Linked DNA regions of Homo sapiens. Changing the gene in region 1 together with any one later gene gives a genetic interaction. Each region holds a gene or a part of one and is shown on either strand. Other genes may lie near its edges. The genes, in order: PALM and KEAP1.

Region 1 (3,808 bases):
GCGTGGTGGCGGGTGCCTATAATCCCAGCTACTCGGGAGGCTGAGGCAGGAGAATCGCTTGAACCTGGGAGGCGGAGCTTTCAGTGAGCCGAGATTGCACCACTGCACTCCAGCCTGGGTGACAGACAGAGCGAGACTCCGTCTCAAAAAAAAAAAGCATTATATCACCTTTTTCTGAGTGTGGGCCCCTGTTTCCTCTCATCCTTTCTTGATCTAGGAAACCTGTCATTTGTTTATTGAACAAATAAATGCTCCCTCCTCACCATCCTCGTGCTGTGCGGGATCAGCAGGGTCTGGAAAGCTATGCAGCATCTTCTCTGAGGTGTGAGAAAGGCTTCCTCATCCAGTCCATCATGAACCTTTTCTGAGAAGGATGTTTCAGGGTTCATCCAGGCAGGCAGAAGGATGCACCTTGTGGAAGGACTGGCATGTGCAAAGGGCTAGAGGTGGGAAAGCATTGGAAGAAGAGAATGCTCTTTGGTGTTTGTTCCTGCTAGGCCTTGAGTGCCAGGATGGGGAGTCATGGATAGTGTGTGAGCAGGGGAGGAGCAGTGGCTGACCTGGTCATCAAAAAAGGCGCTGGCAGCTGAGGAGTGAGCCCAGGGAGGAGCAAGTCATGGCCAAGCCTTGATTGTGGCTGCAGGGGCAGCATGCAGAGAAATGGCAGAGCCAGAGGGGGCAGGACCCCACGTCTAGGAGGGCAAACACAGGATTCCAGAACTGCGTGTGGTCAGTGATGCCCACAGGGACGGGGCTCCCTGGCTGGGGAGAAGTAGCCTGGTCCCTGGATACATGAGGGGGTGGAGGGCGTCCTCTAGGAGGATGGCTGCGTGGACGTCTTGGTGTCTGAGGAGTGTAAAATCAGGCCAGAGTGGCTGTCTCCCGCCCCAGGGTTTCAAGCAGAAATTCAGGGACAGTCAGAGCCAGTCACCAGGACAGAGCCTGGACTGGGTGGGAAGAGGGAAGGGGAGCTAGGCCTTGGGATGGGGAAGACTTAGATTAGGGCTGGGCATGGTGGCTCACGCCTGTAATCCCAGCACTTTGGGAGGCCGAGGCGGGCAGATCACCTGAGTTCAGGAGTTCGAGACCAGCCTGGTCAACATGGTGAAACCCCCGTCTCTACCAAAAATACAAAAATTAGCCAGGCATGGTGGCAGGTGCCTGTAATCCCAGCTACTCGGGAGGCTGAGGCAGGAGAATCGCTTGAACCCAGGAGGAGGTTGCAGTGAGCCGAGATTGCGCCACTGCCCTCCAGCCTGGGTGACAGAGCGAGACTCTTTCTCTCAAAAAAAAAAAAAAAGAAAGTTTAGATTAGGACCAGAGTGAGGCCAGCTGAGTGGGAGGCGCTGCATGGTCAACAGACTGGTGGTGGGACAGGGCCAGGCCTGGGAGCCCCTCCTGGGTGGGCAGAGGCTGTGGGCAATGGAGGCAGAGATGCGGGACCCTGAAGGCCGGGGAGGGACAGAGGCCCAGGGTTCTTCAGTAACCCCTGTCAGGGAGCGAGAAGCTGATGTCCTCATCAGTTTGTATTCAAACGCTTCCAGCCATGGAAAGTCTCAGGGCAGGGCCAGCAGGGGTTTCAGCACTCCATGGGGGTTGGGAAGGACCCCAGCCCCTGGCCTGGCTCTTGTTGAGAAGGCTGGCATTCCCATTACACATGCACGTATACACACACGTACACAGGTATGTATACACACGTCTGTATGTATATCATTCTTAACAGCTTCATTAAAATACATTTCACACGCTACACAGTCTGGCTGCTTAAAGTGTACAGCTCAGGCGTTTTTAGTACACTGACAGGGTGTACTTTTTTTTTTTTTGAGACAGAGTCTCTCTGTCACATAGGCTGGAGTGCAGTGACGTAATCCCGGCTCACTGCAACCTCCGCCTCCCGGGTTCAAGTGGTTCTCCTGCCTCAGCCTCCTGAGCAGCGGAGATTACAGGCACGTGCCACCACGCCCGGCTAATTTTTGTGTTTTTAGTAGAGACGGGGTTTCACCATATTGACCAGGATGGTCTCAATCTCTTGACCTTGTGATCCACCTGCCTTGGCCTCCCAAAGTGCTGGGATTACAGGTGTGAGCCACCGCGCCCAGCAGAGTTGTGTATCTTTCACCACAATTGTAGAACATTTTCATCACCCCCAAAACAAGCCCTGTCCCCATTAGGCATCCCCTCCCGTCCCCCTCCCCCCAGCCCTCGGGGAGCCAGTCCCCTTCCTGTCTCTGGATCGGCAGGTCCTGGACATTTCGTAGACATGGGATCACACGCTGCGTGGCCTTCTGTGTCTGGCGTCTCTCACTGAGCGTGATGTCCTCAAGGTGCATCCGCGCCGTGGCCTGGGTCAGAGCCTCGCTCCTGTTCACGGCTGAGTCATGTCCCAGTGCGTGGACGGCCACATTGCGTTTACCCACACATCTGTGGATGGACACCCGGGTTGGTTTATCTGTGAATCTGTAGTTACCCCCCGAGATGGTTGGAGCTTGTGCTCTGTTCACACTGAGGAGTCCGGGTCCTACTTTACATAAGTGTAAGTCGTGACAGTGAGTTTCTTTAAAAAGAAGAGGCAGTGATCAGATGACAGGTGGCCCTGGGAGTGGCGGGAGTGTGAGAAGAGGGGGCCGGGATTGGGGGGACCTCTGGGTGGGGGCTTCCTCTGAAGATGGAAAGACCCTAATCGACTCCCTGGGGCAGCAAGCATTTATTGAGCACCTGCTGTATGCCTGGTGCCAGGGACATGGCAGGGACAAAAATGACACAGTTGCTGTCCTAGTGGGAAGACAAGATCACGCCTGTAATCCCAGCACTTTGGGAGGCTGAGGCGGGCGAACCACCTGAGGTCAGGAGTTCGAGACCAGCCTGGCCAACATGGTGAAACCCCGTCTCTACTAAAAATACGAAAATTAGCCGGGCGTGGTGGCATGTGCCTGTAATCCCAGCTACTCAGGAGGCTGAGGCAGGAGAATCACTTGAACCCAGGAGGCGGAGGTTGCAGCGAGCCGAGATCGCGCCACCGCACTCCAGCCTGGGCAACAGAGGGAGACTCCATCTCAAAAAAAAAGAAAAGAAAAAGATAAGTAAAGTGATCCGGGTGGTGACAGCTGCAGGGGTGCCTGGGGCTGAAAATTAGGACAGAAGAGGCCTAAATGAGGAGGTGACGTCTGCAGAAAGGCCTTGGGCCTGAGGCCCGGGGAGGTCTGGGTGACCGTGCACCAGGCAGCAATGCAGCCAGCACAATGGCCCTGCAGTGGGAGCTCTGTGGGACGTCTCAGGAGTGTGGCTGGAGTGCAGTCGCGTGGGGAGGGACCATGGGGCCTCTGCAGCAGGGTTTGCCCTGAGACCCTGCTGAAAGCCAGGGAAGGCCCCGTTCACGCCTCACTGCCCCGTCTTCCCCTGAGGGCCCGGGCAGGGTCCCTTCCCACCCCAGGTTAATAGGCAACAGGTTTGCTTCTCTGCATCTGTGGCCTGCTTTGACCTCCGTCTTCTCCTCTCCCCCGGGGTGATGCCTCTCTGCCGTAACCCGTTTAGGGTTCTCGGTGCCCCAGAGACTGGGATGGCCCTGGGGGCCTCCGTGCTGCATCCTGGGAGGGCTGGGAGGAGGTTCCTTCCTGGAAGGCTGCCTGGAGGAGGTGGCTGTGCTTGAGCTGATCTTGGCGGTGGAGAAGGGAAAGGGGAAGCTGGGAGCTGATGAAGGGTGAGGGGCTGACATTGGGGCTTGGACTCCGGGGCTTGGAGCAGGGCAGGGCGGTGGAGGAAGCAGGGCCGGGGGTGCCAGCGCTCAGGGGAGACACAGGCTCTGAGGACC
Region 2 (3,808 bases), 9.8 Mb from region 1:
GCTCAACATGCTCTAGAAAGGGAAAGGCCGCCAGATTGCTGAAGCAGAGTGATCAAAGGGAAGAGGTGGCAGGGGCTAATTGCGTAGGGCTTTGCAGGCTGTTGAGGAGTTCAGTTTTACTAGGTACTGTGGGAGGCATTGGAGGATCCAGAGCAGGGGAGAGACATGACTTCATGTATGTTTTAAGATGGGCTCTTGGGCCAATCAGGTTGATCAGGTCGGGGAAGTTTGCAAGTTTGCAAATGGATTCTGCTTCACCTACTTTGCAGGAAAACTGACCTAGGAATTGCTTTATCTTGCAAAACGAGGCCCGGCAGGTGCTGGCCCAGTCCCAACCCCTGCCCTCTGCCCTGTGCTCTCTCCCCTCCAGGTCCCTGAGTGCCAGAGGTGGTGGTGTTGCTTATCTTCTGGAACCCCATGCAGCCAGATCCCAGGCCTAGCGGGGCTGGGGCCTGCTGCCGATTCCTGCCCCTGCAGTCACAGTGCCCTGAGGGGGCAGGGGACGCGGTGATGTACGCCTCCACTGAGTGCAAGGCGGAGGTGACGCCCTCCCAGCATGGCAACCGCACCTTCAGCTACACCCTGGAGGATCATACCAAGCAGGCCTTTGGCATCATGAACGAGCTGCGGCTCAGCCAGCAGCTGTGTGACGTCACACTGCAGGTCAAGTACCAGGATGCACCGGCCGCCCAGTTCATGGCCCACAAGGTGGTGCTGGCCTCATCCAGCCCTGTCTTCAAGGCCATGTTCACCAACGGGCTGCGGGAGCAGGGCATGGAGGTGGTGTCCATTGAGGGTATCCACCCCAAGGTCATGGAGCGCCTCATTGAATTCGCCTACACGGCCTCCATCTCCATGGGCGAGAAGTGTGTCCTCCACGTCATGAACGGTGCTGTCATGTACCAGATCGACAGCGTTGTCCGTGCCTGCAGTGACTTCCTGGTGCAGCAGCTGGACCCCAGCAATGCCATCGGCATCGCCAACTTCGCTGAGCAGATTGGCTGTGTGGAGTTGCACCAGCGTGCCCGGGAGTACATCTACATGCATTTTGGGGAGGTGAGCGGGGAAGTGGGGCTGGGGGCAGTGTCAGGAGAAGGACCAGGGATGGACGAGTGCTCATCACTGTCTCCCCTTGAGATGTCAAGGCAGGAAACTGGAGAAAAAGGAGGTTCTGGGCTGGGTATGGTGGTGTAGTCTCCACAGTTTGAGGGGCTGAGGCGGGGGGATTGCTTCAGGCCAAGAGTTCAAGACCAGCCCAGGCAACATAATGACACCCTGTCTCTAAACAAACAAACACACAAACAAAAAACAACTGGGGCCGGGCGTGGTGGCTCATGCCTGTAATCCCAACACTTTGGGAGGCCGAGGCAGGTGGATCACCTGAGGTAAGGAGTTCAAGACCAGCCTGGCCCACATAGCTAAAACCCATCTCTACTAAAAATATAAAAATTAGCCAGGCCTGGTGGCGGGCGCCTGTAGTCCCAGCTGCTCAGGAGGCTGAGGCAGGAGAATCGCTTGAACCAAGAGGTGGAGGTTGCAGTGAGTGGAGATCGAGCCACTGCACTCCAGCTTGCGCAACAGAGCAAGACTCAGTTTCAAAAAAAAAAAAAATTAAAAAACAACTGGGGTTCTGAGTTCCTTGTCTACACATGTGGGGAGACTGGTGAACAGCTGGGGAAGGTGAGGTCTTCATATGTCTCTGGGCTCCCTGGTTTCTCTGGGGTCAAAGTGGGGCAGAGTGCAGTGAACAGCAGCCAAATCCTAGGGTAGCCCAGCCTTTCGGGCAGTCAGCAAATGTTTATTGGACACCCGTGACAGGCTGCAAGCTGTAAGTCTGAACCTTAGTCATGTTTTCTTTGGTCCACACAATGTCCTTATACTGTTTTTGGTTTCGTTTTCACATTTCTCAGTGAAGGAAATTATCTATAGAAATTGACAAGAGAGGGCAGGGCCCAGTGGCTCACGCCTGTAATCCCAGCACTTTGGGAGGCTGAGGCGGGTGGCTCACCTGAGGTCAGGAGTTTGAGACCAGCCTGACCAATATGGTGAAACCCCATCTCTAATAAAAATACAAAAAAAGAAAACTAGCCGGGTGTAGTGGCATGTGACTATAGTCCCTGCTACTCGAGAGGCTGAGACAGGAGAATCGCTTGAACCGGGGAGGTGGAGGTTGCAGTGAGCCGAGATCGCACCATTGCACTCCAGCCTGGGCGACAGAGCAAGACTCTGTCTCAAAAAAAAAAAAAAAAAAGCCTGGGCGCGGTGGCTCATGCCTATAATCCCAGCACTTTGGAAGGCCAAGGTGGGCAGATCACCTGCGGTCGGGAGTTCAAGACCAGCCTGACCAACATGGAGAAACCACGTCTCTATTAAAAATGCAAAATTAGCCTGGCATGGTGGCTCATGCTTGTAATCCCAGCTACTCAGGAGGCTGAGGCAGGAGAATCGCTTGAACCCGGGAGGCGGAGGTTGCAGTGAGCTGAGATTGCGCCATTGCACTCCAGCCTGGGCAATAAGAGCGAAACTCTGTCTCAAAAAAAAAAGAAAAAGTTTTTGAAGAGATGAGGTCTTGCTCTGTCCCCAGGCTGGAATACAGTGGTGCCATCATAGCTCACTGTAGCCTCCAACTCTTGGGCTCAAGGAGGCCTCCTATCTCAGCCTCCTGAGTAGCTGGGACTATAGGTATGCAGCACCACGCATGGCTAATTTTTTAGTTTTTAAATTTTTTTGTAGAGACAGGGTCTTGCTATGTTGCTGAGACTGGTCTCGAACCTCCTGGCTTTGAACAATCCTCTGGCTTTGGCCTCCCGTAGTGTTGGGATTACAGGTATGAAGCACCATACCAACACCAGGCCAAGAAGTGTTTATTGAGCACTTGCTGTGGGCCAGCCCCTGTTCTAAGTGATTTATGTCCTTTGCATCATTGACTGTTCCCAACTGTCCTATGAGGCAGTACTACCCTTCAGCCTAGGCAAGCAGGGCAGTGCCCCAGGCCCTAAGCCTTCGGGAGTCCCATGTCTTGGTGTTCCTTCCTGGAAATTTTCTAAGTCCCCCACTGGCTGGTACCAGCTGGGATGGATGTTACACTGATCTCTATTTCTCTCCTTCAGGGATAGATTCTTTCCTACCCTCTATGTTACATGTGGGGTTGATCAGACGCCCCAGGGTTCTCTGGCGTTAGTCCTAGGGCCTGCAGCTTCTAGGAAAGTGGTCTATACAGTAGGAGAAACATATACAGTGTTTCTTTCTTGTGTTTGTATGAACATGGGGTACTAGATTAAAACTGATTACATAGACGAGTGCCTGACAACTTTTTTTTTTTTTTTTGAGACGGAGTCTCACTCTGTCACCCAGGCTGGCATGCAGTGGCACTGTATCGGCTCACTGCAACCTCCATCTCCTGGGTTCAAGCAATTCTCCTGCCTCAGCCTCCCAAGTAGCTGGGATTACAGGTGCCTACCACTATGCCCAGCTAATTTTTAAAAAATATTTTTAGTACAGATGGGGTTTCACCATGTTGGCCAGGCTGGTCTCGAACCCCTGAGCTCAGGTGATCTGCCTGCCTTGGCCTCCCTAACTGTGCTGGGATTACAGGCATGAGACACTGCGCCCACGCCCGCCCCCCACCGCCCAGTCCTTTTTTGTTTTTGAGACTGAGTCTGGCTCTATCGCCCAGGCTGAAGTGCAGTGGCAAGATTTCGGCTCACTGCAAGCCTCCATGTCCTGGGTTCAAGCGATTCTCATGCCTCAGCCTCCGAAGTAGCTGGGATTACAGGGGTGCACCACCACGCTGGCTAATTTTTGTATT

What was found.
Region 2: changes in PALM (region 1) and KEAP1 together harm fitness more than expected from each alone (negative genetic interaction), as found in Homo sapiens cells (one large-scale study listed by BioGRID).

Annotation. Positions count from the first base shown.
Region 1 is NC_000019.10:715,127-718,934, forward strand, and holds part of PALM (paralemmin-1), read left to right. Parts: intron 1-3,808. UniProt on the Homo sapiens protein: Involved in plasma membrane dynamics and cell process formation. Isoform 1 and isoform 2 are necessary for axonal and dendritic filopodia induction, for dendritic spine maturation and synapse formation in a palmitoylation-dependent manner.
Region 2 is NC_000019.10:10,496,643-10,500,450, reverse strand, and holds part of KEAP1 (kelch-like ECH-associated protein 1), read left to right. Parts: intron 1-370; 5' UTR 371-417; coding exon 418-1,056; intron 1,057-3,808. UniProt on the Homo sapiens protein: Substrate-specific adapter of a BCR (BTB-CUL3-RBX1) E3 ubiquitin ligase complex that regulates the response to oxidative stress by targeting NFE2L2/NRF2 for ubiquitination.